Regions from separate parts of the Homo sapiens genome. Here region 1 is linked to region 2. Evidence: fine-mapped expression QTL. A gene starts in region 2. The other region holds a variant in brackets. All regions are shown on one strand. Distances are from middle to middle. Region 1 holds the start of MYOCOS (myocilin opposite strand). Region 2 holds the start of MYOC (myocilin).

Region 1 (15,321 bases), 26 kb after region 2:
TCTTCCTGAAAACCATTGCTCTTGCATGTTACATGGTTACCACAAGCCACAATAAAAAGCATAACTTCTAAAGGAAGCAGAATAGCTCCTCTGGCCAGCATCGAATATAAGTAAGATGCATTTACTACAGTTGGCTTCTAATGCTTCAGATAGAATACAGTTGGGTCTCACATAACCCTTTACATTGTGAAATAAAATTTTCTTACCCAACGTTCTCTTCCTTGAACTTTGTGGGAATCTTTGCTTAAGAGAAGGATATAGATTCCAACCATCAGGTAATTCCTTCAGGTTGGGAGATGTGATTGCAGGATGTTAAAGGTGGTGTGTGTGTGTGTGTGTGTGTGTGTAACTGAGAGGCTTGTGCCTGGTTTTGAGGTGCTGCCCAGGATGACGCCAAGCAAATAGCAGCATCCACACTTTCCCACCTCCATCTCCTGGTGCTCTCGGCACTACCGGAGCAATCTTTCCATCTCTCCCCTGAACCCACCCTCTATTCACCCTAACTCCACTTCAGTTTGCTTTTGATTTTTTTTTTTTTTTTTTTTTTTTTTTGAGATGGAGTCTCGCTCTGTCACCCAGGCTGGAGTGCAGTGGCACGATCTCGGCTCACTGCAAGTTCCGCCTCCCAGGTTCACACCATTCTCCTGCCTCAGCCTCCCAAGTAGCTGGGACTACAGGCGCCTGCCACCACGCCTGGCTAATTTTTTTTTTTTCCAGTGAAGATGGGGTTTCACCATGTTAGCCAGGATGGTCTCGATCTCCTGACCTTGTCATCCACCCACCTTGGCCTCCCAAAGTGCTGGGATTACAGGCGTGAGCCACCACGCCCAGCCCCTCCACTTCAGTTTTTATCTGTCATCAGGGGTATGAATTTTATAAGCCACAACCTCAGGTGGAGAAAGCTTATAGCATAGTTTTGTTCTTCCAACTCTTAAAACTGCAGTAAAATATAACAAAATTTACCATCCCAGGATTTATAAAGGCACAGTTCAGTAGTGTTAAACACATTCATATTATTGGGCAACCATCACGACCATCATCTCCAGAACATTAATAACTCAAGTTATTAATGTACCAGGGGAAAAGAAAAGTCAGGGCTAGTGCGGTGACTTTACGGTTATTAATACACCCATTAATAACTCCATTATCCTCAGCCCTTATAGCAATATTATTATTTTCTAAATTTTTTTGTAGAGACAGGATTGTACTATGTTGACCAACTTGTCTCAAACTCCTGGCCTCAAGTAATCCTCCCATCTCGGCCTCCAGAGTGCTGGGATTACAGGCATGAGCCACCACACCTAGCTGCATTATTTTTTAATAACAAACTTAATTTCCCTCTTCAGTTGCCATTGTACCTAATGGTAGAACACTTCATTTGCCAGTTCAGCTTGGATTCCATCACATCAATGTGTTGTCAGCCAATTCAGGCTTTTCCTCTCCCCATGTCTTTGAGGTGGCATCTATGCTTGAGACAAGTGAGATTGAGGGCGCACTGGCACTCAGGGGGAAGAACCCAGGCAGAGTGTCTCACACCTGATTTTAGCCATCAGGCAGATTCCAGCTTTGCTGCTGGCATCCACATCTCTGTATCCAGTTACAGATTTGGGGTCCTCTGAGTTCCAATGGCCAGACCCATGAGGCAGCCTTTTTTTTTTTGAGGAGTCTCACTTTGTCACCCAGGCTAGAGTGCAGTGGCATGATCTCAGCTTGTGGCAACCTCTGCCTCCCGGGTTCAAGCGATTCTCCTGCCTCAGCCTCTTGAGTAGCTGGGATTACAGGCACCTACCACCACGCCCTGCTAATTTTTGTATTTTTACTAGAGACAGGGGTTTCACCATGGTGGTCAGGCTGGTCTCAAACTCCTGACCTCATGATCCACCTTCCTCAGCCTCCCAAAGTGCTGGGATTACAGGCGTGAGCCACCATGCCTGGCCAAGGCAGCTTTTTTCCAGCCTGTTGTGTGTACCACCAAGGATATGAGGACACAGTGGGAGCTGTCCTGCAGGGTAGGAACACAGGTTCCCTTTTGCTCTCCTGCTGTGCCCCTGCTGGGTCAGGGCCACTTCTCCTAGAAGTCTGCCACCCCATAGGCTTCACCTGGAAATGAGCACAAGTCTCCTCTGCTTTCTCTTGCCCCAACCTATCTGGTACATGAAGTCCTATCAGGAAACCTCCAGAATCTAAGTTTTTTCTCTCTCTTTTTTTTCTGAGGCAGAGTCTTGCTTTGTCACCCAGGCTGGAGTGCAGTGGTGCTATCTCGGCTCACTGCAACCTCTGCCTCCTGGGTTCAAACGATTCTCCTGCCTCAGCCTCCCGAGTAGCTGGGATTACAGGCGCCCACCACCAGGCCTGGCTAATTTCTAAGCTCTCTTTCTCTCTCTGAAGTTCCCTTATTCTTCCAGACTTTATTCAGACTGTAGAGATGGAATACTCTTCACCTATCTTCTCAGGTTGTTGTTCATGGGACCAGAGCTCAGCCTTTTGATTTCCAAGAGAATCAGCTCTTAAAAGTCAAAGCCTTGGCTTTAAGACAATTCTTCCTATCCTGAGTTCTAAAGACTATACTTTGGAAAGCAAAGCGAAAAATCTGACTTTTTTTTTTTTTTTTTTTGAGACAGAGTCTCACTCTGTCACCCAGGCTGGAGTGCAGTGGTGCTATCTCGGCTCACTGCAACCTCCGCCTCCGGGGTTCAATTGATTCTCCTGCCTCAGCCTCCCATGTAGCTGGGATTACAGGAATGTGCCACCATGCCTAACTAATTTTCGTATTTTTGGCAGAGACAGGGGTTTCACCATGTTGGCCAGGCTGGTCTCAAACTCCTGACCTCAGGTAATCTGCTGGCCTCAGCAGCCCAAAGTGCTGGGATTGCAGGCGTGAGCCACCATACCAAGCCTGACTTTTCTTTTCCCCTGGGAGTTTATTCTCATTAAGATTACACATGCCATGAGTGAGAAGGGAGAGGATGAGATCTCAAAATGGCTCTCCACTGGTGTATTAATATACTTGAACTCCCATAACAAATACCACTGACAGAGTGGCTTTGTGAACCCCAAAGAGCTGAGACAAGTCTCAGTTAATTTAGAAAGTTTATTTTGCCAAGGTTGAGGGCACCGTGACAGAGCCTCAGGAGGTCCTAATGACATGTGTCCAAGGTGGTTGGGGCACAGCTTGGTTTTATACATTTTAGGGAGACATGAGACACCAATCAATATATGTAAGATGTACATTGGTTCTGTCCAAAAGGTGGGACAACTCAAGTAGGGAGGGGGCTTCCAGGTCACGGGTAGGTGAGAGACAAACAGTTGCATTCTTCTGAGTTTCTGATTAGCCTCTCCAAAAGAGACAATCAGATATGCATTTATCTCGGTGAGCAGAGGGGTGACTTTGAATAGAATGGGAGGCAGGTTTACCCTAAGTAGTTTCCAGCTTGACTTTTCCCTTTAGCTTAGTGATTTTGGGACCCCAAGATTTATTTTCCTTTCATAGCTTAAACAACAGAAATTAATTTTCTTACAATTCTGGAGGCTGGAAGTCCAAGATCAAGGTGTCAGCAGGGTTGGTTCTCCTGAGGCCTCTCTCCTTGGCTTATAGATGGATGGCTGTTCTCTACATCTTCACATTATCTTCCCTCTGTACATGTCTGTGTCCCGATCTCCTCTTTTTCACCCTAATGACCTAAGCTTAGCTTAATCACCTCTTTGAAGGCCTTATCTCCAAAGACAGTTACATTCTAAAGTATTAGGATTAGGGCTAGGTGTGGTGGCTCATACCTGTAGTCCCAGTACTTTGGGGGGCCAAGGCAGGAGGATCACTTGAGGTCAGGGGTTCAAGACCAGCCTGGCAACGTAGTGAAACCCCGTCTCTACTAAAAATATAAAAATTAGCCGGGTGTGGTAGTGCACACCTGTAATCCCAGCTACTTGACAGGCTGAGGCAGGAGAATCGCTTGAACCTGGGAGGCGAAGGCTGCAGTGAGCCGAGATCATGCCACCACACTCCAGCCTGGGCAACAGAGCAAGACTCTGTCTAAAAAAACTAAAAGTTAAAAACAAAGTATTAGGATTAGGACTTTCAGATATGAATTTGGGGGTGGGGACACCATTCAGCCCATAACATCTGGGTGTCAACCACTCTCCCCCACTGACAGCTGACTCTTAAAAACTGAAAAGCCCAGAAATCGGAATGCATGAGCTCATTCATCCTACTAAGCACCTCTACCTGCCAGGTGTTTGAATGAAAAGTGGAAGGTGGAAAGTAACTGAGATGCTGAGATGAGCCAATCCTGTTTGTGCAGCCCTCCCCATGGCTCCTGTTCTTTCTCTCCATAACCTGCTGCATCAGGCTTTGGGATGGAAGAAGAGGGTGGAGGAAGAAGAAACAAAGGGAAGAAAAACTTTTCCTTCATGAAGCTTTCAGAATGTTAGACTCCTCCTCCATCTTTGACTGTTCCTTCTTTGTTTCTTTTGCTGGTTCCGCCCTTTAATCCCGACCTCTTTTTACTTTTTATTTTTTTTGAGATGAAGTCTCGCTCTTGTTGCCCGGACTGGAATGCGATGGCATGATCTCAGCTCACTGCAACCTCTGCCTCCCAGTTTCAACCGATTCTCCTGCCTCAGCCTCCCGAGTAGCTGGGATTACAGGCGCCTGCCACCATGCCCAGCTAATTTTTGTATTTTTAGTAGAGACGGAGTTTCACCAGGTTGGTCAGGCTAGTCTTGAACTCCTGACCTCAGGCAATCCACCTGCCTCAGCCTCCCAAAGTGCTGAGATTACAGGCTAGCTCCCTCTTAAGATTGAAGCACCCCAGGGCTCAGTTTAGGGTCTCTTCTTATCTACTTACTCCTTTGGGCATCTCATCTAATATCAGGGCTTTAAATTCCAACTCACATATGCTAATGAACCTCATGTTTATATCTCCAACCTAGTCATTACTCCTGAACTCCAGATTCATATATCACCTGCCCCCTTGGCATCTCCATTTAGATGTCTATTAGGCATGTCAAACTAGCAGGTTGAACATCTGACCTTCTCTTTCTTCATCAGACACACCAAATCTGCTCTTTTATTTTTATTTTTTTTGAGACAAGGTCTCACTCTATCACCCAGGCTGGAGGGCAGTGGCAAATTACAGCTCACTGTAGCCTCAAACTCCTGGGCTCAAGCAAGAAGCAGCTTGAACCTCCCAAGTAGGTGGGACTACAGGTTTGAGCCACTGTGCTTGGTTTTTTTTTGTTTTTGTTTTTTGTAGAGACAGGGTCTCCCTATGTTGATGAGGCTGGTCTCAAACTCCTGGCCTCAAACAATCCTCCTGCCTCAGCCTCCACAAGCATGAACCATTGCACCCAGGTAAATCTGCTCTTCTTTTGGCTGAGGAAACTCAATCCCTCTAGTTGCTTGGGCCAAAAATCTTAGAGTTATCCTTTACCCGCCTGTCTATCATACCCCATATCCAATGCATCAGCAGCTTTTGTAGGTTTCATCTTCAAACACGTAGATCCAGAATCTTCCCATATTTCTCATCACTACAACTGTAATCGGTCTAAATGACTATCGTCTTGTTCCTGGATTACTACAATAGCAGATGACCTGCTTCTGTTCCCTCTACCCATGCAGCCTACTCTCAACACTGTAGCCAGAACAATCCCATTAAAACACAAGCCAGATCATGCCTCTTTTTCTGAAAACCTCTATGGCTTCTGCTTCCCATCTCATTCAAAGTCAAAGTCAGAGTTCTTACAAAACCCCACATCGTCGGCCTCCTTCCTCCACCACTGTGCCTTCATCCCACAAATGTCCCTGATCCACTCTACTCAAGCTTCCTCGCTCTCCTTGAATGCACCAGGCACACTTCTACCTTTGAACCTTTGCACTAGTTCTTCCCTCTGTCCCAAATGTCCACACACCTAACTTCATCACTGGCTTCAAGTCTTTGCTCAAATGCCACCTTCCTAAAGAGGTCCTACAGACCTGGAGTCAAAGGAGATCATTTTGGAGCTTTAAAATTTGAACTGCCCAGCTGGATTTCAGACTTGCATGGGCCCTGTAACCCCTTTGTTTTGGCCAGTTTCTCTTATTTGGAATGGCTGTATTTACAAAATACCTGTACCCTCCTGTATCCAGGAAGTAACTAGCTTGCTTTTGATTTTACAGACTCATAGGTGGAAGGGACTTGCCTTGTCTCAGATGAGACTTTGGACCATGGACTTTTAGGTTAATGCTGAAATGAGTTAAGACTTTGGGGGACTGCTGGGAAGGCATTATTAATTTTGAAATGTGAGGACATGAGATTTTGAGGGGCCAGGGATGGAACGATATGTTTTGGTTGTGTCCTCACCCAAATCTCAACTTGAATTATATTCCCATAATTCCCACATATTGTGGGAGGAACCTGGTGAGAGATAATTTGAATCACGGGGACAGCTTCCCTCATACTGTTCTCATGGTAGTGAATAAGTCTCATGAGATCTGATGGTTTTATTAGGGGTTTCTGCTTTTGCAT[C/T]TTCCTCATTTTCTCTTGCTGCCACCATGTAAGAGGTGCCTTTTACACTCCGCCATGATTCTGAGGACTCCCCTCAGAATCATGTAGAACTGTAAGTCCAATGAAACCTCTTATTCTTCCCAGTCTCGGGTATGCCTTTATCAGTGGCATTAAAATGGAGTCATACACCTACCCAGACCACCCTGTTTAACACTACAACCAACCTGCACTTCTAATCTCCCTTACCCTGTTTCACTGCTTTAACACATCTTTTCCATTATACTCATCGCCTCCTGATGTATAATTCACTGTTTTTTCATTGTGTATTTGTTTTGTTTTTGAGAGAGGGTCTCACTCTGTCACCCAGGCTGAAGTGCAGTGGCATAATCTCAGCTTATGGCAACCTCCACCTCCCAGGCTCAAGTGATCCTTGCACCTCAGCCTCCCAAGTAGCTGGGACTACAGGAGCCCACCACCACGCCCAGCTAAATTTTTTTTGTATGTTTTTGTAGATATGAGGTTGCTACATTGTCCAGGCTGGTCTCAAACTCCTGAGCTGAAGTGATCTGCCCACCTTGGCCTCCCATAGCACTGGGACTAGAGGGGTGAGCCACTGCACCTGGACTTACATTGTGTATGTTTTTTGTTAGTCTTTCCCCATTGGAATGTAAACTCCATGGGGTAGGGATTGATTGTTTTGTACAGTGATATATCCCTAGAACAGTGCCGTGCTTACATAGTGGGTACTCAACATTTGCTGAACAAAGGAACAGAGAGAACATCCTAGAATGTGTTCAGAAACCAAATGGAAGTAAAACACAAGAATTATTCTTTCCCAGCCTGACCTCTCTTTGATTCTATTTCTAACTGGCGGTGTGTCCTTGGACATGTTTAACCTCTGCCCCATCACTGTTTAATGGAATTTATTTATTTTTTTTTTTTTGAGATGGAGTCTCACTCTGTTGCCTAGGCTGAAGCACAGGGTGCAATCTCAGTTCACCACAACTTCCGCCTCCCGAGTTCAAGCGATTCTCCTGCCTCAGCCTCCCAAGTAGCTAGGATCACAGGTGTACACCACCACACCCAGCTAATTTTTATATTTTTAGTAGAGACAGCGTTTCTCCATGTTGGCCAGGCTGGTCTCAAACTCCTGACCTCAGGTGATCCACCCACCTCTGCCTCCCAGAGTGCTGGGATTACAGGGGTGAGCCACCATGCCCGGCCTCATAGAATTATCTTTAATGGCAGTCACATTCTACAACTGCAACATCCCATAGGGTAGCCACTGGCTGCACAAATCTACTAAGCACTTGAAATATGACTAGCATGACTGAAGAACTGAATTTATTTCATTTTTAATGAATTTAAATTGAAATAGTCACAAGTGGCCAGTGGTTGTCCTATTGGACAGCGCAGGCCCATTCTTCACCAGACTGAGGAGAGGGAGATGTGTATGTCCAGCATCCAGCTGGCAATGGCAGACACTCAGTGCAGGCTCCTTCCCTGCCCCATGCTGCTGAAGGCCACAGGTAAGGAGTCCGACTTCCACACCAATGGCACAGCCAACTACTATGGGGGTAGAAGAACCGGAGCACTTTTTACTTTTAAAGAAGGAACATTGGTTTTATTAAATGCATGGGATCAGGGGAGATCACAGAGTGTTTACCCTGACTCCACAATGGTGTACAGAAGCTTTGACTCCTTTCTCATAGGGGAGCCGAGCACATTTACAAGGGCAGGCCTGGAGACAGAACACCTACAAGGACTCTAAGAAGCAGCAGACGAAATAAAGGATGACATGTGGGGATATTTTTTATATGTATATGTATGCCAGAATTATCACATTTTTGATGCCTTCGAACAATTCAGAAGAGCCCCGGAAGTCCTTAGAGGTGCACTGGGGCCCGTCAAGGAGCTTGGAGAGGACTCAAGCAATGGACTTCTCCACAACAGAACCACTCTACACTTGGCTGCTTTTCAGGGTAGAGTTTTCTGTTACAGAGTTTGAAAATCACTTCAAATCTCCCAGAAACAAACTTTAAAAACACTGTCAATAAATGTGAAACTCAACCACCTTAGCCCCAGCACACGGCATGGGAATGCAGCTCCAAAATATAGGGCCACACAACTGTAGTGTCTCAGGTTGCGTTTTGAAAATCCAGCTACCTCAGGGTTCCCAGGACCTGAGATCTTTAAACTCTAGACTTTAAAAGGCCTAGACTTTTCACTGATTCAGATTTAGTAATAAACAACAAGGCCTGATAACTGTTTATTAATTTAAATACAACTGACTACAGCAACAGTTCTATAGCATAACATAAAGATCAAAATATATGCATATCATATCAGAGACTTGGATTAAAAAACCAAAAATGACTAAGTCTATTAGCAAGGGTAAACCATGCTCTATGGTGGTTCTAGGTGAAGAAAAATAGGAAAGAACAAAGATCTTCAAGAGTCTTCTAAGACAAACCTCAAGAATGCCACTGAAACTGTTTTCTGGAGTTCTGTGTAAGAATTCACTTCAAAATAAGTTTTACATCTTAGGAGACCGTGGGATCCTCAGCTGGAGAAGGAGGTGGGGCAGGAGGTACTGTGAGGTAGGTCCTGTGAGGGGGAGGGGCTTGCTCCAAATCCAAGTGGGAGAGCATCTCCTTAGCTTCATCACTTTTCTGGGTAATTATCTCTTTTCTAGGAAGAAAGGCACATTGAATGCCATTTGAATAAAGATAGGGTTTTAAATAAACAGAGGAAAAGGAAACAGACTGGGCATGGTGGTTCATGCCTGTAATCCCAGCACTTTGGGAGGCTGAGGTGGAAGGATCACTTGAGCCCAGGAGTTCAAGACCAGCCTGGACAACATAGGGAGACCCCCTTTCCACAAGAAAATAAAAATTAGCCAGGCATGGTAGCATGCACCTGTGGTCCCAGCTACTTGGGAGGCCAAGGTGGGAGGATCACTTGAGCCTGGGAGATCGAGGCTACAGTGAGCTATGATTGCACCACTGCACGCTAGCTTGGGTGACAGAGTGAGACCCTGTCTCAAAACAACAAAAAAGAAGGAACAAAAGAAATACCCCAGATGCCAGCATCTAAAAAGAATAGTTAACATTTCAGAGGACATCTTTCCAAGCTCCTCCACCCATACTCACCTTGCAGAAATGAGATATACTTTAATTGTCAGTCAGCTCTCCTCAGAGTGAGCTCAGCTGTCCCCGTTGGTGCCATGGACCCAACAGAGTTAGAGTCTGCACCCTCACTCCTCCATCCCCATCCTCCAAGGGTATCTTAGGATTAGAGCAGTAGTTCTTCCCATCAATTAGCTTTCTCCATCCCCTACTGGCCAGCTCTCTGTACATTTCAGCCTGGGACAGGCTGTGTCTAAACGTTTCATTTGCATTCCAGCTATTCACAGGGCCAGTCCAGCCTCAGTTTCACTTCACAGCTCCCTTTGGCCTAACTTGCCCCCATCCCCAGGCTGTGGGGTTCGCCTCCCCTTCTGCTGGAGTATACCAGAGTCTCCCCATCCTCCTCAGGGCTGGGCAAACCTTGCCTTCAAGGGCATAGGACTAGCCTGTCAAGCTTTTACAGGTTCAGATTTAATTGTTCCCTGAACATTTACTATGTTCCAGGGACTAGAAATTACCTAGAAACTAACCACATGTAGAATCTCAGCCCCCACATTAAATCTTTCAGCTGAGCAAGCTGAGACAGAAGGTGATTACCCAGATCATGTGACCAGTAGAAGGCAGAACTGGAATCCAAATTTAAATTTCAATCTGGCCACAAGTTCACTGCTCCCATCTCCCAATCAAAGCTGATCCCTAATGTTGCTGAGAGGATGTGGGATGATGGGAAGGGAATTGTTTGGTGGCTAGGACAGGCCACAGAATTATGCCATCTCGTCCTTGGATGGACATTAGAGCACAGGGACCACACTTCCTGCAGACAATGCCCACTCTCACGGTCTAAACCCGTGGTATCAAATTGGCTGTGCACCACTATCAACAAAGATTTGACATTCCCATATATGGTAACTAAGAAATGGCACCTAATTCCTATCAATTTGCTGGAATCTTACATCCCAATAAACTCTAAGGTCAAAGGGCATTGTAAACAACATTAGATGGAAGTCTGTATTTTCTATTTCAAATCAATAATTTTGATTTTTTTGACCAACTTCTTATCAGATTTAGTAAGATTATTATTTTTAATCTCATAACATACCCGACAAAGAGCTCAAGCTAGAGGTGTCATCTTGGGCCAGGCACAGTGGCTCTCATCTGTAATCCCAGCACCTTGGGATGCTGAGGCAGGTGGACCACTTGAGCCCAGGAGTTTGAGACCAGCCTGGGCAACATGGCAAAACCCTGTTTCTATTAAAAATACAAAAAAACTGGCCGGGCACAGTCGCTCACGCCTGTAATCCCAGCACTTTGGGAGGCCGAGGCGGGCAGATCACAAGGTCAGGAGATTTAGACCATCCTGTGAATGGTGAAACCCCGTCTCTACTAAAAAAAAACACACACACACACAAAATATTAGCCGGGCGTCGTGGCGGGCGCCTGTGGTCCCAGCTACTCAGAAGGCTGAGGTGGGAGAATGCCGTGAACCCGGGAGGCGGAGCTTGCAGTGAGCCAAGATTGCTCCAGCCTGGGCGACAGAGAGAGACTCCGTCTCAATATAATAATAATAATAATAATAATAATTAACCAGACGTGGTGGCACATGGCTGTAGTCCCAGCTACTTGGGAGGCTGAGGTGGGAGGATTGCTTAAGCCCCAGGAGCTTGAGGCTGAGGCTACAGTGAGCTGTGATTGCACCACTGAACTCCAGCCCAGGTGACAGAGCGAGACCCTGTCTCAAAAAAACAAAACCAAACCAAACAAAGTGATCCCCACTCCCCACTCTCTATCAAGAGCCACGACCACCCACGCAGTGAACATACACAAATGGGTGTCATCACCCCTTGAAGGGCCATGTGGGAAAAGTCTGTTTTCCACAATGGATGACAAAGCAGTTTCCTTTTCTGTGAAATGTGTCTTGCAGCAGCATTAAATACATTTAAATAAACCAGTGCCAGCTACAGTTTCAGGCACTTGCTGGGGCTCAGTGTTATGCTCCGTCCCAACCCCACAAGCGATCCAGAGGAAAGATTTTGGGTACCTTGTGATCATGGTGACTCGGCGCCTGGTTACCTCGGAGGTCAAGTCCTTGTAGGGGAGATTAATGCTGTTGTTTGCAAGGCTTTTCTGAGCCATGGCCTTGCACTCAGGGGATTTGAGGAATTTAAAGTTACTGCACCTGTGAATGCAAAACACAAGAGCTGGCACACATGCTTCAGGGGTCAGGAATGCTCCAGCTAGGTCCAGAATGGCGCAGTTTGCAGAGAACATTCACTGCCTTACTCTCAGTTGGTCCTCCCTACAGCCTGGCCTTCATCCCCCTTCCCCCCAAGGTCAAGAGGCAGATATTTCCTCAAATACCTATTATGAGGAGTGGGCGGCTAAGAGTAAAGTACTTGTTGGTTGTTTATATAGAACAAATGTGATTATTCCAATCATGCAGTGGGCAGCTATCATTACCCCCAGATAACACTGAGGGAATGGAGGCACAGATAGGTGAACTGAATCTCCCCAGGTTGCACGGCAGCCCTGTCTCATGCTGGTTCCTCTCTAATGGCGCCATTCCAGAGGAGCCCTTTTCTCACAGGGCTGTTTGACCTCACTGACATGTGCAAAGCTTTCTTCCTGGAACACTTACCCCTTAAAGAACAGGAAAGGGACATAAATAAGGCTGCAGCTGGGAGCCATGCTACTTGTCCAGATATGCACATGGCATAGAGACTGGAGGGTTGATTTTGATAACAGAGATAGCGGCCACCCATTTACTGCCGGTCACCTTGGGATGTCCTTTTACTTTGTTGCCCCCCACCCCCTTTTCTTTTTGAAACAGGGTCTGGCTCTGTCACCAAGGCTGGAGTGTAGCAGAGCTGTCTCGGTTCACTGCAGTCTCAGCCTCCCAAGTAGCTGAGACTACAGGTGCATGCCACCATGCCCAGCTAATTTTTGTATTTTTTGTAGAGATGGGGTTTCACCATGTTGCTCAGGTTGGTCTCAAACTCATGAGCTCAAGAAATCTGCCCTCCTTGGCCTTCCAAAGTGCTGGGATTGCAGGCATGAGCCACCATGCCTGGCCCTTTTGCTTCATCTTATTTGATAACCACCGTAAACCCACATGGTAAGTATTATGATCCTCATTCAACGAATGGGGAAACTGAGCAGTAGAGAAATTAGGTAGCTTTTCAGGAGTCACAGAGCTAGAATTTGAAGCTAGGTCTGTTTGACTTCAAAGACTATATTATCTCCATTACAGAGCCAAGTCATCTCCCAAGAAACAGAAGAGGAATTAGAGTAATTCCCATTCCTAGACACCAGGTCACACTCACGTGGTGACTGCCATTCTAGAGCATGAGTTGCAACAGCCAGAGCTCGCCAGCTTGATCTTTTGGCTGGAAAGGTTTGTTCTTATAAGGATGCCCAACTGACTTACCTTTTAGTCCCAGGTCAGCTTAGCATATAACTGCTTTTACGCACCAACTCATGGATTTGCTAAGAAATATCCTTATGACATACTCTGTACCCACATACCAGCTACTTCATCTCTTTGAAAAGAGAAAAGGCGAAAAAAGGACCACCAACGTCAACTTCCTCCCCTTTAGTCTTTTAACCTCCTGTAGTCAGTCTCTCTCAGGAACTTGGGTTAATAAGATTGATTTGCGCCCTTAGAAAGCAGCAGCTGAAACAAATTACCCCTGGAGCCGTGTCCTTGAGAAATCTCCACAGATGTCGCAGGGAGAGGATGGGTCTTGGGGGCAGAGCAGGGGAAGAGCTTTCTGTCATGTGAGCAATGGGGAAGCGCTATCTCAGATGCTAGTAAACACATTGTGACCTAGTCTCTTTATTGACTACTTTTTAAAAAGCTAATTCACGTACGCCCCTCCTCCCAGTGCCATCAATAATCACTGATCCCACCTCTTCCTGATAATTCACAGCACTTCTTCTATGCTGGCAGGTGTTTCAGCTCTGAAATTAAAGGAGTTGATTGTGCAACTCCCACTTTTGATCTGAGTGATCTCGGGCAAGTAATTTAACCTCTAGAAGCCTTGGTTTTCTTACTTGTAAAAGAGGAGTAATAGTATCTTCTAGGGCAGTTGTGAGGGTTGAGAAAATGTTTGCAAACAATCCTTAATTTTGCCTTTCTTGCATTTTTTTAATTTTTAAAATGTATTATTACTATTGTAATTATTGAGACAGGGTCTCACTCTGTCACCCAGGCTGAAGTGCAGTGGTGAGATCATAGCTCACTGCTGCCTTGAACTCCTGGCCTCAAGTGATCCTCCCACCAGGCTGAGGCCAGGAATTCAAGGCGGCAGTCTATTTCTTTACATGATAATAAAACCACAACAGAGGCCAGGCGCGGTGGCTCATGCCTGCAATCCCAACACTTTAGGAGGCCGAGGCGGGCGGATCACGAGGTCAGGAGATTGAGACCATCCTGGCTAACACGGCGAAACCCCGTCTCTACTAAAAATACAAAAAATTAGCCAGGCGTGGTGGCGGGTGCCTGTAGTCCCAGCTACTCAGGAGGCTGAGGCAGGAGAATGGCGTGAACCCGGGAGGCGGAGCTTGCAGTGAGCCGAGATCGCGCCACTGCACTCTAGCCTGGTTGACAGAGTGAGACTACGTCTCAAAAAAAAAAAAAAAAAAACCCACCATAGAAGAAATTTGCTGCTTGGGAAGATAAGGTGTAATGAAGCTGGGATTAAAAACAAGGTCTACACAAGGTCTATATATACGTAGATAAATACAGCTATTTCCCTTTGTCAACGAAAACAGTCAAACTCTGTAAAATATTTGAAGAGATTCTGAACCAAATATGAGTGACCATGACCTGTGACAAAGCCCTCAGGAGGTCCTGAGAACACGTGCCCAAGTTGGTCGGGGTGCAGCTTGGTTTTATACATTTTAGAGAGGCATGAGACATCAGTCAAATACATTTAAGAAATACATTGGTAGGCCGGGCACGGTGGCTCGTGCCTGTAATCCCAGCACTTTGGGAGGCCGAGGCGGGCAGATCACGAGGTCAGGAGATCGAGACCATCCTGGCCAACAAGGTGAAACCCCGTCTCTACTAAAAATACAAAAATTAGCCCGGCGTGGTGGCACTCGCCTGTAATCCCAGCTACTCGGGAGGCTGAGGCAGGAGAATCGCTTGAACCCGGGAGTCAGAGGTTGCAGTGAGCCAAGATCGCCACTGCACTCCAGCTTGGCAACAGAACGAGACTCCGTCTCAAAAAAAAAAAAAAAAAGAAAGAAAAAGAAAGAAATACATTGGTTTGCCCAGAAAGACAGGACAACTCAAAGTGCAGTGGAGGGGGAGCTTCCAGGCTACAGGTGAATTTAAAATTTTTCTTTTTTACAATTGGTTGAGTTTTCTAAGGACCTGGGATTGATGGAAAGGGAATGTTCAGGTTAAGATAAAAGATGGTGGAGGCCAAAGTTCTTTCAAAGTCTTATAGTGGCTGCCCTTAGAGACAATAGATGACAAATGTTTCCTATTCAGATCTCAGTTAATCTCTTTAGGATTGGGAGGGTCTGGAAGAAAAATATCTAGCTATGTTAATTGAGATTCTTTACAGATGCAAATTTGCCCCCAAAAAGAACAGCTTTGCATGACCATTTCAAAATATGGCAAAGAAACATGTTTTGGGGTAAAATATTTTGATTTTCTTTCTTGTCTCATAATATTATGCCAGAGTCAGGTTGGAGAGTAAGTC
Region 2 (15,321 bases):
TTTACCAACGACCTTGGAAATATCTTTTCCATGCCTAGCACAGTGTCAGGCACACAGAAGGCCCAAGCATGTTATTGAATGTCCCACACTTTTTACCTCCATGGTAAGAAACATACCGACTAAACATAGTGAGGAACAGATTACTTTTAGGCACTGAACTACAATTGCTGATTATCCTTTGCCTACCCACATCTCCTTCTAAGGGATTCTTCTTTGCCCATAGATCTTTCTGCTCTAAACAGGCCCTCATCCCCCTCCATAAAACATAATTTCATGCATCAAAGTTGAGTTTCTGTCCCAGGCCAGTGCTTCAGTTGCCTACTGGACAACTTCCTGCTGGTATGGTCACTTGAAAGAAGGAGCTCAGCCAATCAGCTCTCTTCTAAGAAGGGGTTTGGGAAACACAGAGGCTGGGTCAGTTAACAGAGGAAATGAGCTGAAAGGTCACATGCGGGGAGGTAGGCTCAGGGCTGGGGCAGCCATCAGGGACTACAGCTGAAGTCAGCAGCTAGATATTGGTGAAGAGGAGAATGAAGTTGATGCCGAGAAACATTCTGTAAACCAAAAATAAAATTCTAAGCCCCACAACTGGCTGAATGGGACCACGCGGATTCCAAAGAAACCTGAAAAACTAGTTCAGACCACAGGAAGGAGAGTCAGACATGCTTTATTATACCCTCCTCCCTTTAGAATTTAGACACAATTGACCAACATTAAAACAGATCTTAAGACCGACCAAATGAACTCTTTCTTTAACAATAAGATACCAAAATCCAACCTGACTCTAGTATAGCATCACATGACCAATAAAGAAGGAAATCAAAATATTTTACCCCAAAATATGTTTCTTTCCCATATTTTGAAATGACTATTTGCATCTGTAAAGAATCTCAATTAATGTAACTAGGTATTTGCCCTTCCAGGCCCTCTCAACCCCAAAGAGATTAACTAAATCTGGCACCATTTAAGGTCTGAAAAGAGATATTTATTATCCATTATCTCTTAAGCCTGCTACCTGGAGGCTTCATCTATAACAAGAACCTTGGCTTCCACAACCCCCCTTATCTTAACCCCAAGTATTTCTTTCTGCTGACTTCAACTTTAGGGAAAGCTTAACTCTTTTAACTAATTGCCAATCAGGAAATCTTTTAACTCTACCTACGACCTGAAAGCCAACCCAGTGTGTACCTCACACGTATAGATTGATGTCTTCTATCTCCCTAAAATGTATAAAACCAATCTGTTACCCAACTACCTTGGGCAAATGTTCTCAGGACCTCTTGAGGCCGTGTCATGGGTCATGGTACTCACATTTGGCTCAGAATAAATCTCTTCAAATATTTTATAGAGTATGGATTTTCTTGTCAACAAGAACCATGATGAGTGAGACTCTGCAGCTCCTAAGAGACAGGGAAAATAGTGGACTTGACCTTTTTTGAAAGGCCAGTTTCTGTTTTGGTTTTGGAGAATACTTACTATATTACACAAGGAGGTGTTTGGGTCATGGGTGTGGATCCCTCATGGCTTGGTGCTCTTAGGGATAGTGAGTTCTCACATGATCTGGTCATTTAAAGTGTGTGGCACCTCCCCCCAACCCACTCTCTCTCTCACTCCTGCTCCTGCCATGTGAGATTCCTGCTCCCTCTTTGCCTTCTGCCATGAGTGTAAGCCTCCTGAGGCCTCCCCAGAAGCAGAGGCTGGCGCTGTGCTTCCTGTGCAGCCTACAGAACTGTGAGCCAATTAAACCTCTTTTCTTTATAAATTATCCAGCCTCAGGCATTTCTTTATAGTAATGCAACAGTGGACTAAAGCCCCCTCCCCCGTCACACTCTTTCCCATTTCTCTAAAGAAACTTGAAACATTTCCCTAAAGAAACTCTGTACCTTGGAAGTAAGGTGGGAGAAGCTCTGTGCTGCACCTAAAGGAGATTACTGCCAGCAGCCTTCACAAAGACTCAGAATGAGTCTGTAGCTGCCCTCAGGTTGGCCCAAGACTCCACTAGCACCGGGTCTCCCCACAGCTGCTCATGGTTTCCACTCTGGTCCTGTACAGCATAGGACACATAATCCCACACCACAGGGCAAGCCCAAGGCAGATGTCCTGCATATGTTTGGGCAAATCTAGTCCTCAAGTTGCTAGTAAATAGATTGGGTGAAAGAAAAATATCTGAAGAGCCTCCATAAATTTTTTTTTTTTTTTTTTGAGACGGAGTCTCATTCTGTCGCCCAGGCTGGAGTGCAGTGGTGCCATCTTGGCTCTCTGCAACCTCCACCTCCTGGGTTCAAATGATTCTCCTGCCTCAGCCTCCTGAGTAGTTGGGATTACAGGCACCCGCCACCATGTCTGGCTAATTTTTGTATTTTTAGTAGAGTTGGGGTTTTGCCATGTTGGCCAGGCTGCTCTCAAACTCCTGACTTCAGGTGATCTGCCTGCCTTGACCTCCCAGAGTGCTAGGATCACAGGCATGAGCCACCACGCCCGGTCTAAAGTTCATTCTATTTTTTTTTTTTTTTTTTTTTAGATGGGAGTCTTGCTCTGCCACCAAGGCTGGAGTACAGTGGCACAATCTTGGCTCACTGCAACCTCCGCCTCCCAGGTTCAAATGATTCTCCTGCCTCAGCCTCCCAAGTAGCTGGCATTATAGGTGCACGTCACCACGCCCAGCTAATTTTTGTATTTTTACTAAAGACAGGGTTTCACCATGTTGGTCAGGCTGGTCTCAAACTCCTGACCTCAGGTGATCCACTCACCTTGGCCTCCCAAAGTGCTGGGATTACAGGCGTGAGCCACCACGCCCGGCCTAAAGTTCATACTTGAGGGCTTTCCTACAACAGCATAATATTTAGAAATTAGATGGCATTAGAAGGCTGTATTTCAGCTATATGATCGGCTATATATATAGTTACTGGGAAAATTGTCAGTACCAAAATGGAGTCACCTATATCAAATCCTAACAAAATAGAGTCAAGAGGCCTGGCGCGGTGGCTCACGCCTGTAATCCCAGCACTTTGGGAGGCTGAGGCAGGTGGATCACGAGGTCAGGAGATCGAGACCATCCTGGCTAACACGATGAAACCCCGTCTCTACTAAAAATACAAAAAATTAGCCAGGCATGCTGGCGGGCACCTGTAGTCCCAGCTACTTGGGAGGCTGAGGCAGGAGAATGGTGTGAACCTGGGAGGCGGCTTGCAGTGAGCTGAGATCGCACCACTGCACTCCAGCCTGGGCGAAAGAGCAAGACTCCGTCTCAAAAAAACAAACAAACAACCAAAAAACAAAATAGAGTCAACAGGCCAAGAAAATAGAGTCAAAAGGCCCTCACACATATATACCCTATAACAGGAACTGTGACAAAAGACTTTTCCAACTGAACTTTCCTGTTAAGCCACTTCTATGAAGACCCTTTCGTAGCCATAGCCAGTACCACCAATGAACAAACGTCACCACCTGCAATAAGTCCCTGTAACCAATAGTATTTGTTTCAAAACAGTTTATGTGGACTTCTCCTTTTTGCCTTTAAAATCTTGCCCTTGCCCAAACCCCTCAGATGCACCTGGGGTTTGCCACAGCACACATATCCTGAATCGCAATCCCTTGCTATTCCTGAATAAACTCTTTGTTTTGGGGAGTTGGTCACTCTGTAGCTCATTTTAGGTTGACTGACTCTCTGTCTCTGTCTCTGTCTCTCTCTCTCTCTCTCTCTCTCTCTCTCTCTCTCTCTCTATATATATATATATATATATATATATATGTATATTCATATATATAGTATATATGTGCGTATGTATATAGAGAGAGATATATAGTTTGTGTATATATCTATACACACACACACACACACACACACACACACACACACACATACACATAGCTATATGGACTATCTATGTGACCTTAAATAAATCAGTTAATTATTCTGATCCACAGTTTCTCCACTTGTAAAGGAAGAATTCTGATCTTTGTTCAGTTTACCTCAGGGCTATTATGAAATGAAATGAGATAACCAATGTGAAAGTCCTATAAACTGTATAGCCTCCATTCGGATGTATGTCTTTGGCAGGATGATAAAGAATCAGGAAGAAGGAGTATCCACGTTAGCCAAGTGTCCAGGCTGTGTCTGCTCTTATTTTAGTGACAGATGTTGCTCCTGACAGAAGCTATTCTTCAGGAAACATCACATCCAATATGGTAAATCCATCAAACAGGAGCTAAGAAACAGGAATGAGATGGGCACTTGCCCAAGGAAAAATGCCAGGAGAGCAAATAATGATGAAAAATAAACTTTTCCCTTTGTTTTTAATTTCAGGAAAAAATGATGAGGACCAAAATCAATGAATAAGGAAAACAGCTCAGAAAAAAGATGTTTCCAAATTGGTAATTAAGTATTTGTTCCTTGGGAAGAGACCTCCATGTGAGCTTGATGGGAAAATGGGAAAAACGTCAAAAGCATGATCTGATCAGATCCCAAAGTGGATTATTATTTTAAAAACCAGATGGCATCACTCTGGGGAGGCAAGTTCAGGAAGGTCATGTTAGCAAAGGACATAACAATAACAGCAAAATCAAAATTCCGCAAATGCAGGAGGAAAATGGGGACTGGGAAAGCTTTCATAACAGTGATTAGGCAGTTGACCATGTTCGCAACACCTCCCCGTCTATACCAGGGAACACAAAAATTGACTGGGCTAAGCCTGGACTTTCAAGGGAAATATGAAAAACTGAGAGCAAAACAAAAGACATGGTTAAAAGGCAACCAGAACATTGTGAGCCTTCAAAGCAGCAGTGCCCCTCAGCAGGGACCCTGAGGCATTTGCCTTTAGGAAGGCCAGTTTTCTTAAGGAATCTTAAGAAACTCTTGAAAGATCATGAATTTTAACCATTTTAAGTATAAAACAAATATGCGATGCATAATCAGTTTAGACATGGGTCCCAATTTTATAAAGTCAGGCATACAAGGATAACGTGTCCCAGCTCCGGATAGGTCAGAAATCATTAGAAATCACTGTGTCCCCATCCTAACTTTTTCAGAATGATCTGTCATAGCCCTCACACACAGGCCCGATGTGTCTGACCTACAACCACATCTACAACCCAAGTGCCTCAACCATTGTTAACGTGTCATCTCAGTAGGTCCCATTACAAATGCCACCTCCCCTGTGCAGCCCATCCCGCTCCACAGGAAGTCTCCCCACTCTAGACTTCTGCATCACGATGTTACAGCCAGAAGCTCCGTGAGGGTGAGGGTCTGTGTCTTACACCTACCTGTATGCTCTACACCTGAGCTCACTGCAACCTCTGCCTCCCAGGTTCAAGCAATTCTCCTGTCTCAGCCTCCCGCGTAGCTGGGACTACAGGCGCACGCCCGGCTAATTTTTGTATTGTTAGTAGAGATGGGGTTTCACCATATTAGCCCGGCTGGTCTTGAACTCCTGACCTCAGGTGATCCACCCACCTCAGCCTCCTAAAGTGCTGGGATTACAGGCATGAGTCACCGCGCCCGGCCAAGGGTCAGTGTTTAATAAGGAATAACTTGAATGGTTTACTAAACCAACAGGGAAACAGACAAAAGCTGTGATAATTTCAGGGATTCTTGGGATGGGGAATGGTGCCATGAGCTGCCTGCCTAGTCCCAGACCACTGGTCCTCATCACTTTCTTCCCTCATCCTCATTTTCAGGCTAAGTTACCATTTTATTCACCATGCTTTTGTGGTAAGCCTCCACATCGTTACTGAAATAAGAGTATACATAAACTAGTTCCATTTGGGGCCATCTGTGTGTGTGTATAGGGGAGGAGGGCATACCCCAGAGACTCCTTGAAGCCCCCGGCAGAGGTTTCCTCTCCAGCTGGGGGAGCCCTGCAAGCACCCGGGGTCCTGGGTGTCCTGAGCAACCTGCCAGCCCGTGCCACTGGTTGTTTTGTTATCACTCTCTAGGGACCTGTTGCTTTCTATTTCTGTGTGACTCGTTCATTCATCCAGGCATTCATTGACAATTTATTGAGTACTTATATCTGCCAGACACCAGAGACAAAATGGTGAGCAAAGCAGTCACTGCCCTACCTTCGTGGAGGTGACAGTTTCTCATGGAAGACGTGCAGAAGAAAATTAATAGCCAGCCAACTTAAACCCAGTGCTGAAAGAAAGGAAATAAACACCATCTTGAAGAATTGTGCGCAGCATCCCTTAACAAGGCCACCTCCCTAGCGCCCCCTGCTGCCTCCATCGTGCCCGGAGGCCCCCAAGCCCGAGTCTTCCAAGCCTCCTCCTCCATCAGTCACAGCGCTGCAGCTGGCCTGCCTCGCTTCCCGTGAATCGTCCTGGTGCATCTGAGCTGGAGACTCCTTGGCTCCAGGCTCCAGAAAGGAAATGGAGAGGGAAACTAGTCTAACGGAGAATCTGGAGGGGACAGTGTTTCCTCAGAGGGAAAGGGGCCTCCACGTCCAGGAGAATTCCAGGAGGTGGGGACTGCAGGGAGTGGGGACGCTGGGGCTGAGCGGGTGCTGAAAGGCAGGAAGGTGAAAAGGGCAAGGCTGAAGCTGCCCAGATGTTCAGTGTTGTTCACGGGGCTGGGAGTTTTCCGTTGCTTCCTGTGAGCCTTTTTATCTTTTCTCTGCTTGGAGGAGAAGAAGTCTATTTCATGAAGGGATGCAGTTTCATAAAGTCAGCTGTTAAAATTCCAGGGTGTGCATGGGTTTTCCTTCACGAAGGCCTTTATTTAATGGGAATATAGGAAGCGAGCTCATTTCCTAGGCCGTTAATTCACGGAAGAAGTGACTGGAGTCTTTTCTTTCATGTCTTCTGGGCAACTACTCAGCCCTGTGGTGGACTTGGCTTATGCAAGACGGTCGAAAACCTTGGAATCAGGAGACTCGGTTTTCTTTCTGGTTCTGCCATTGGTTGGCTGTGCGACCGTGGGCAAGTGTCTCTCCTTCCCTGGGCCATAGTCTTCTCTGCTATAAAGACCCTTGCAGCTCTCGTGTTCTGTGAACACTTCCCTGTGATTCTCTGTGAGGGGGGATGTTGAGAGGGGAAGGAGGCAGAGCTGGAGCAGCTGAGCCACAGGGGAGGTGGAGGGGGACAGGAAGGCAGGCAGAAGCTGGGTGCTCCATCAGTCCTCACTGATCACGTCAGACTCCAGGACCGAGAGCCACAATGCTTCAGGAAAGCTCAATGAACCCAACAGCCACATTTTCCTTCCCTAAGCATAGACAATGGCATTTGCCAATAACCAAAAAGAATGCAGAGACTAACTGGTGGTAGCTTTTGCCTGGCATTCAAAAACTGGGCCAGAGCAAGTGGAAAATGCCAGAGATTGTTAAACTTTTCACCCTGACCAGCACCCCACGCAGCTCAGCAGTGACTGCTGACAGCACGGAGTGACCTGCAGCGCAGGGGAGGAGAAGAAAAAGAGAGGGATAGTGTATGAGCAAGAAAGACAGATTCATTCAAGGGCAGTGGGAATTGACCACAGGGATTATAGTCCACGTGATCCTGGGTTCTAGGAGGCAGGGCTATATTGTGGGGGGAAAAAATCAGTTCAAGGGAAGTCGGGAGACCTGATTTCTAATACTATATTTTTCCTTTACAAGCTGAGTAATTCTGAGCAAGTCACAAGGTAGTAACTGAGGCTGTAAGATTACTTAGTTTCTCCTTATTAGGAACTCTTTTTCTCTGTGGAGTTAGCAGCACAAGGGCAATCCCGTTTCTTTTAACAGGAAGAAAACATTCCTAAGAGTAAAGCCAAACAGATTCAAGCCTAGGTCTTGCTGACTATATGATTGGTTTTTTGAAAAATCATTTCAGCGATGTTTACTATCTGATTCAGAAAATGAGACTAGTACCCTTTGGTCAGCTGTAAACAAACACCCATTTGTAAATGTCTCAAGTTCAGGCTTAACTGCAGAACCAATCAAATAAGAATAGAATCTTTAGAGCAAACTGTGTTTCTCCACTCTGGAGGTGAGTCTGCCAGGGCAGTTTGGAAATATTTACTTCACAAGTATTGACACTGTTGTTGGTATTAACAACATAAAGTTGCTCAAAGGCAATCATTATTTCAAGTGGCTTAAAGTTACTTCTGACAGTTTTGGTATATTTATTGGCTATTGCCATTTGCTTTTTGTTTTTTCTCTTTGGGTTTATTAATGTAAAGCAGGGATTATTAACCTACAGTCCAGAAAGCCTGTGAATTTGAATGAGGAAAAAATTACATTTTTGTTTTTACCACCTTCTAACTAAATTTAACATTTTATTCCATTGCGAATAGAGCCATAAACTCAAAGTGGTAATAACAGTACCTGTGATTTTGTCATTACCAATAGAAATCACAGACATTTTATACTATATTACAGTTGTTGCAGATACGTTGTAAGTGAAATATTTATACTCAAAACTACTTTGAAATTAGACCTCCTGCTGGATCTTGTTTTTAACATATTAATAAAACATGTTTAAAATTTTGATATTTTGATAATCATATTTCATTATCATTTGTTTCCTTTGTAATCTATATTTTATATATTTGAAAACATCTTTCTGAGAAGAGTTCCCCAGATTTCACCAATGAGGTTCTTGGCATGCACACACACAGAGTAAGAACTGATTTAGAGGCTAACATTGACATTGGTGCCTGAGATGCAAGACTGAAATTAGAAAGTTCTCCCAAAGATACACAGTTGTTTTAAAGCTAGGGGTGAGGGGGGAAATCTGCCGCTTCTATAGGAATGCTCTCCCTGGAGCCTGGTAGGGTGCTGTCCTTGTGTTCTGGCTGGCTGTTATTTTTCTCTGTCCCTGCTACGTCTTAAAGGACTTGTTTGGATCTCCAGTTCCTAGCATAGTGCCTGGCACAGTGCAGGTTCTCAATGAGTTTGCAGAGTGAATGGAAATATAAACTAGAAATATATCCTTGTTGAAATCAGCACACCAGTAGTCCTGGTGTAAGTGTGTGTACGTGTGTGTGTGTGTGTGTGTGTGTGTAAAACCAGGTGGAGATATAGGAACTATTATTGGGGTATGGGTGCATAAATTGGGATGTTCTTTTTAAAAAGAAACTCCAAACAGACTTCTGGAAGGTTATTTTCTAAGAATCTTGCTGGCAGCGTGAAGGCAACCCCCCTGTGCACAGCCCCACCCAGCCTCACGTGGCCACCTCTGTCTTCCCCCATGAAGGGCTGGCTCCCCAGTATATATAAACCTCTCTGGAGCTCGGGCATGAGCCAGCAAGGCCACCCATCCAGGCACCTCTCAGCACAGCAGAGCTTTCCAGAGGAAGCCTCACCAAGCCTCTGCAATGAGGTTCTTCTGTGCACGTTGCTGCAGCTTTGGGCCTGAGATGCCAGCTGTCCAGCTGCTGCTTCTGGCCTGCCTGGTGTGGGATGTGGGGGCCAGGACAGCTCAGCTCAGGAAGGCCAATGACCAGAGTGGCCGATGCCAGTATACCTTCAGTGTGGCCAGTCCCAATGAATCCAGCTGCCCAGAGCAGAGCCAGGCCATGTCAGTCATCCATAACTTACAGAGAGACAGCAGCACCCAACGCTTAGACCTGGAGGCCACCAAAGCTCGACTCAGCTCCCTGGAGAGCCTCCTCCACCAATTGACCTTGGACCAGGCTGCCAGGCCCCAGGAGACCCAGGAGGGGCTGCAGAGGGAGCTGGGCACCCTGAGGCGGGAGCGGGACCAGCTGGAAACCCAAACCAGAGAGTTGGAGACTGCCTACAGCAACCTCCTCCGAGACAAGTCAGTTCTGGAGGAAGAGAAGAAGCGACTAAGGCAAGAAAATGAGAATCTGGCCAGGAGGTTGGAAAGCAGCAGCCAGGAGGTAGCAAGGCTGAGAAGGGGCCAGTGTCCCCAGACCCGAGACACTGCTCGGGCTGTGCCACCAGGCTCCAGAGAAGGTAAGAATGCAGAGTGGGGGGACTCTGAGTTCAGCAGGTGATATGGCTCGTAGTGACCTGCTACAGGCGCTCCAGGCCTCCCTGCCTGCCCTTTCTCCTAGAGACTGCACAGCTAGCACAAGACAGATGAATTAAGGAAAGCACAGCGATCACCTTCAAGTATTACTAGTAATTTAGCTCCTGAGAGCTTCATTTAGATTAGTGGTTCAGAGTTCTTGTGCCCCTCCATGTCAGTTTTCACAGTCCATAGCAAAAGGAGAAATAAAAGGACCGGGTGAGATGTGTCTGCATATGAGCAGTAGAAAGTTGTCAATTGTCCCTTTTGAAAAACTATCCTTTTTTGAACCTTTGCTCAGATTGTTATTTGTACCTTTTGATGTTAAAATGACCTTTATTTATGAAATTACAATAGATTTGGGAAATGATAATAAGTGGTAAGTTTTTGTTTATTTTTAAATGTTCTTCCCTGGCAAAATAAAGAGATGGCACCTCTCTGTCAGTTTTCTTAATATGTTGTTCTGAAAGTTTTCTTACTCAGTCCAATCTGAGAACCTCTGCTTTTAAGTCATCAGACAAATTCTTGAGATGGCTTTTTCTGAGAGGCTCTTCTGTTCATCCTGGTCCCTTCTTGCCTAAAGGTGAGTCTGTGTGTGTGTGGGGGGGGTGCGGGGGTGAGGTGTTGGGGGAGGTCTTCTTATTAGCTGGGAAGATGGTATTTGTGTCACTTTTTGTGAAAGTGGGCTCCCAAATATTCCCTGTTGAGGAAGTGTTCTAATCATGAGGAAATAAGCAAGCAAATCCAGTTGTTGGACAATTAGTTTGGACTGGTCAAAGATGTCAGTGCCAAGGAAGAAAGAAAAAAGGGGTGGGGAAGGGCTTGTTCTATATTAAAGAGACTAAAGAAATGTGTTAACCAAATGTAGTGCATGAGTCTTGATTGGTGTCTTCATCCAAGGGGGAAAAAGGCTATGAGGAACAGGTTTGGGATAACTGAGGCAATTTGACTGCTCATTATTATGTTACTGTATTAATGTTCAGTTTCTTGGTGAGATAATGATACTGTGGTTGCGAAGGATAAAATCTTTGTTCTATGGAGATACATGCTTAAGTACCCAGGGTGAGGCGTCAGGATGTCTGCAATTTGCTCTCAAATGGTTGAAGAAAGACTGCAAATATATAGATAATGAGAGAAAGAAAGGTAAAACAACTGTGGCAAAATATTAATAACTGGTGAATTACAAACTGGTGAATCTAAGTATATGGGGAGCTTATTGTACTATTCTTTCAGTTTTTCTATAGGCTTGAAAAGCTTTAAAATTATGAGAAAATATTTCCTAAAAAGAGCCTTCTACGTGAAAGGCAAGCTCTTCATAGCTATGGGGTTAGAAAACCTAAGAGCCAGAGCCTGGGGATGACCTTGGGCAAGTTATTGAACCCTCTGCATCTTCATTTCTTGTCCATAACATAACAAAGAAAATTCCTGCTGTGAATAATTTTTGTGGGGTTCACATGAAATACCTATAAGATGTAAAGGATTTTTAAAAAATGTTTAGATTGTTAGAATTAGAAGAGATCCAATTCTGAATTTTACAACCAAGGAAAGTGAAGTCCTAAGATGCTAAGGGGCCAAGGTTGCCCAGCTGGTCAGTGGTAGAGCTTGAGACTTGAATCTGTGGAGACAATTGAAAGAATCATCATTACCAGAAGTGTGATGAGGCATTACTTATTTCAGACTGTTGAATGAAGTTACATTCTCAATAAAAACTCCTGCATGTGTGTATGTGGGTGTGGGTGGTGTGTGTGTGTGTGTACAAAAATAGTGGCAATGTTTTGCCTTTTTTTTTCTTTTGTGGTCATTTAACAAGTCTTTGGGGATTTATTAGATGTGTTTCCTAATTTTATATTTTTTCTTGATCTTTCCAGCTACTCCACTTTTGAAATAAGGGCAACATCCCATTATATTGAACACCAAACATGGAAGTTCTTTTCTAGTAGTAGATGTTTTTCATGAGCAGGAAATTACATTAGTACAAGAATGTGGAACTGGAAAGGGACCTAATGAGCATCCGGTACCGCTGGCTGATTTTTGCAGATATGGAAACTGAGGCCCAGAGAGGTTATTCAGCTTGTCCATGGCCATCTACCAGTTAGTGGCAAAGCTCGAATTCTGGCCTCTTCCTCTGAAGTTCAGTGACTTTCTTTCTTTTTTTTTGAGACAGAGTTTCACTCTTGTTGCCCAGGCTAGAGTGTAATGGCACGATCTTGGCTCACTGAAACCTCTGCCTCCCGGGTTCAAGCAATTCTCCTACCTCAGCCTCCTGAGTAGCTGGGATTATAGGCATGTGCCACCATGCCCGGCTAATTTTGTATTTTTAGTAGAGACAGGGTTTCACCATGTTGGTCAGGCTAGTCTCGAACTCCTGACCTCAGGTGATCTGCCGACCTCGGCCTTCCAAAGCACTGGGATTACAGGTGTGAGCCCTCCCTGTACATGGCCATGAGGTTCATTGACTTTCAAGACCTTCAGCTGACCTCTGGTTTATAGACCCTAAAGGTAAAAGACAGAAAGGTACAGGAATGCTTGGAACAAAAGATCTGTTTCAAGGCCAGATCTAGGGAAAAGGGGGCATTCTGGAGGCTGGAATATAAGTCTAGGTATGCTTTTTTGCAGGAGTGGCAAGAACTAGGTGTGAAGGTTTGGGTAGAGAAGCTTAGTGAGGCTGAGTGGACAAAGGTAAGGCCTGAGAAGGCAGCCTTTCTGTATTCCACCTGCAACTCAAATTGTTACCACCACTTTCTTGATCATGTATTAATAGTTGTTATGTAGAAAAAAATTCCTTATAATCATAGAAATCACTTGTTTATACATACACATAATATGACATATTTTACTACATAACTATTACTACAAAGTTATATATAACTTTTTCTTCTCTGGGCTTATATAAATTTTCATATATATACATATATAAATTTTATGTATATATAATAGTTTTTGAAAAGTAGAAAAAAAATACAATTAGCCAAGTGTGGTGGCTCACACCTGTAACCTTAGCACTTTGGGAGGCCGAGGTGGACAGATCACTTGAGGTCAGGAGTTTAAGACCAGCCTGGCCACTGTGGTGAAAACTTGTCTCTACTAAAAATACAAAAATTAGCCGGGTGTGGTGGCGGGCACCTGTAATCCAGTTACTCCAGAGGCTGAGGCAGGAGAATCGCTTGAACCTGGGAGGCAGACGTTGCAGTGAGCCAAGATCACGCTACTGCACTCCAGCCTGGGTGACAGAGCGAGACTCCATCTCAAAAAAATATATATATTACATATAATACATATAAATATATATAATTATATATATAAATTTATTATATATATAATAAAATACATATATAATTTACTAGAAGATAAATTAGAGTTGGTTATTACTGTCACAAGAGAAGGACTGCTTTGTTTGTTATTTAGCCCCTGCTTTGGACTGGTCTCCTGTTGAACAGAGCCTGGAAGAGGGCTTGTGTGCAGTTGGTTTATATGGACCATGATCCTAGAGAAGAGAAGTTGAGACAGGGGAAAGTGAGACAGGGAAGGCAGGAAAGCCACAAAATGGGGGCCTTCTCCAGCTAGTCACCACAGTGGGCAATGGAGGCTCAATCCCATCAAGCCCTTCAGAGGGGCTGTGTAGACTGCAACAGAAGAGGGGAGGTTTACGCATGGATCTGATACCCTCTTGGCCAAGGGCTATCCCATGGAGTATATTGCGCTTCCCTGATACTCAGATGTGGGGACGAGGTTTGTTCTTGCAGACTGATTTTTTTTTTTTTTTTAAGATGGAGTCTTTCTCTGTCCCCCAGGCTGGAGTGCGGTGGCACGATCTTGGCTCACTGCAACCTCCGCCTCCTGGGTTCAAGCAATTCTCCTGCCTCAGCCTCCCGAGTAGCTGGGATTACAGGTGCACACTACCACGCCCAGCTAACTTTTGTATTTTTTTTTTTTTCCAGTACAGACAGGGTTTCACCATGTTGGCCAGGCTGGTCTTGAACTCCTGACCTCAAGTATCCACCCATCTTGACCTCCCAAAGTGCTGGGATTACAGGCATGAGCCACGGCGCCTGGCCTGTTCTTGTAGACTTTCTATGCAGAAAGTCAGAGAAGCTGGGCCACGGTGGCTGAGGCGAGGTCCCCGCAGGTGATAACTGCAAGAGGCAGGTTGCCTCAGCAATGACTGCAAAAAAGTGGGCAGGATGTGAGGGGAGGGTGAGGGGAGAAACCTGAGGTGTTCAACACAAGTGCTGCAGATTCCCTTTCCTCACCTAGAATAGGATGGGGATGAGAATCCCTCATGGGAGTCATCATGCAAATTAGCAGTCACACAGGGAAGCACCCAGTGCAGCGCTGAGCAGTGGCCACCCAGTGAATAAAATATAACTAGAAAGGCTTATTTTACTTGAGTTCCACTATTGTTTTTGTTTTTTGTTTTGTTTTGTTTTTTGAAGATGGAGTCTCGCTCTATCACCAGGCTGGAGTGCAGTGGCGTGGTCTTGGCTCACTGCAACCTCCACCTCCTGGATTCAAGCAATTCTCCTGCCTCAGCCTCCCAAGTAGCTGGGATTACAGGCACACGCCACCATGCCCGGCTAATTTTTGTATTTTTAGTGGAGATGGGGTTTCACCATGTTGGCCAGGCTGGTCTTGAACTCCCGACCTCGTGATCCACCCGCCTCAGCCTCCCAAAGTGCTGGGATTACAGGCATGAGCCACTGCACCTGGCCAGGGTTCCACTATTGTTTTAAAGCATCATTCAATAATCAATATGTCAACATGTGCATAACATTTTAATAACATGCGTTGATTCTAGAGACAGTACAAGTTAGAGCAGTACTCAGGACAATAGTCTATTAGCTAGTCTTCACTTTCCTAAGATGTTTCTGACAACCTGTAGATAATTAGGCATAGCTTGTTTTACTTCATTCCTTTCATTTATGTAATATGGACTGAACTTTCCAGTGATAGAAAATATCTATGAAAATTATTACAATGCCTATGTCTACAGGCAAACGAGTTAATAAATTCAGTTTCCGGGTTGAGGTCTCTAAAATGCCAAGTCTATAAAGAAGCGACGGCAGAGAACACAGAACATTTCCAGAATTTTGTAATAGACATGAACCTTTAAACCACAGAAGGACTGAATTTAACATTTTAAAAAACCTAGAAAAAAAACAGCTGGGCGTGGTGGCTCACGCCTGTAATCCCAGCACTTTGGGAGGCTGAGGCAGGCGGATCACGAGGTCAGGAGTTCGTGACCAGCCTGGCCAATATGGTAAAACCCTGTCTCTACTAAAAATACAAAAATTAGCCAGGCGTGGTGGCAGGCACCTGTAGTCCCAGCTACTCAGGAGGCTGAGGCAGAAGAATCACTTGAACCCAGGAGGCAGA

What was found.
Region 1: its variant is fine-mapped to the expression of MYOC in lung (TOPMed, PIP 0.93).

What each region holds. Positions count from the first base shown.
Region 1 is chr1:171,620,306-171,635,626 of GRCh38, reverse strand. MYOCOS (myocilin opposite strand) reads right to left here and starts at 13,384. Exons shown (of 3, transcript NM_001391940.1): 1 at 13,295-13,384; 2 at 11,649-11,786; 3 at 8,739-9,173. The coding sequence starts at 11,743. The coding sequence ends at 9,026. It overlaps MYOC (myocilin), which reads left to right. Exons shown (of 3, transcript NM_000261.2): 3 at 1-210. RefSeq lists a silencer at 14,192-14,392. The variant C/T (reference allele first, on the strand shown) is at 6,504.
Region 2 is chr1:171,646,580-171,661,900 of GRCh38, reverse strand. MYOC (myocilin) reads left to right here and starts at 9,213. Exons shown (of 3, transcript NM_000261.2): 1 at 9,213-9,893. The coding sequence starts at 9,290.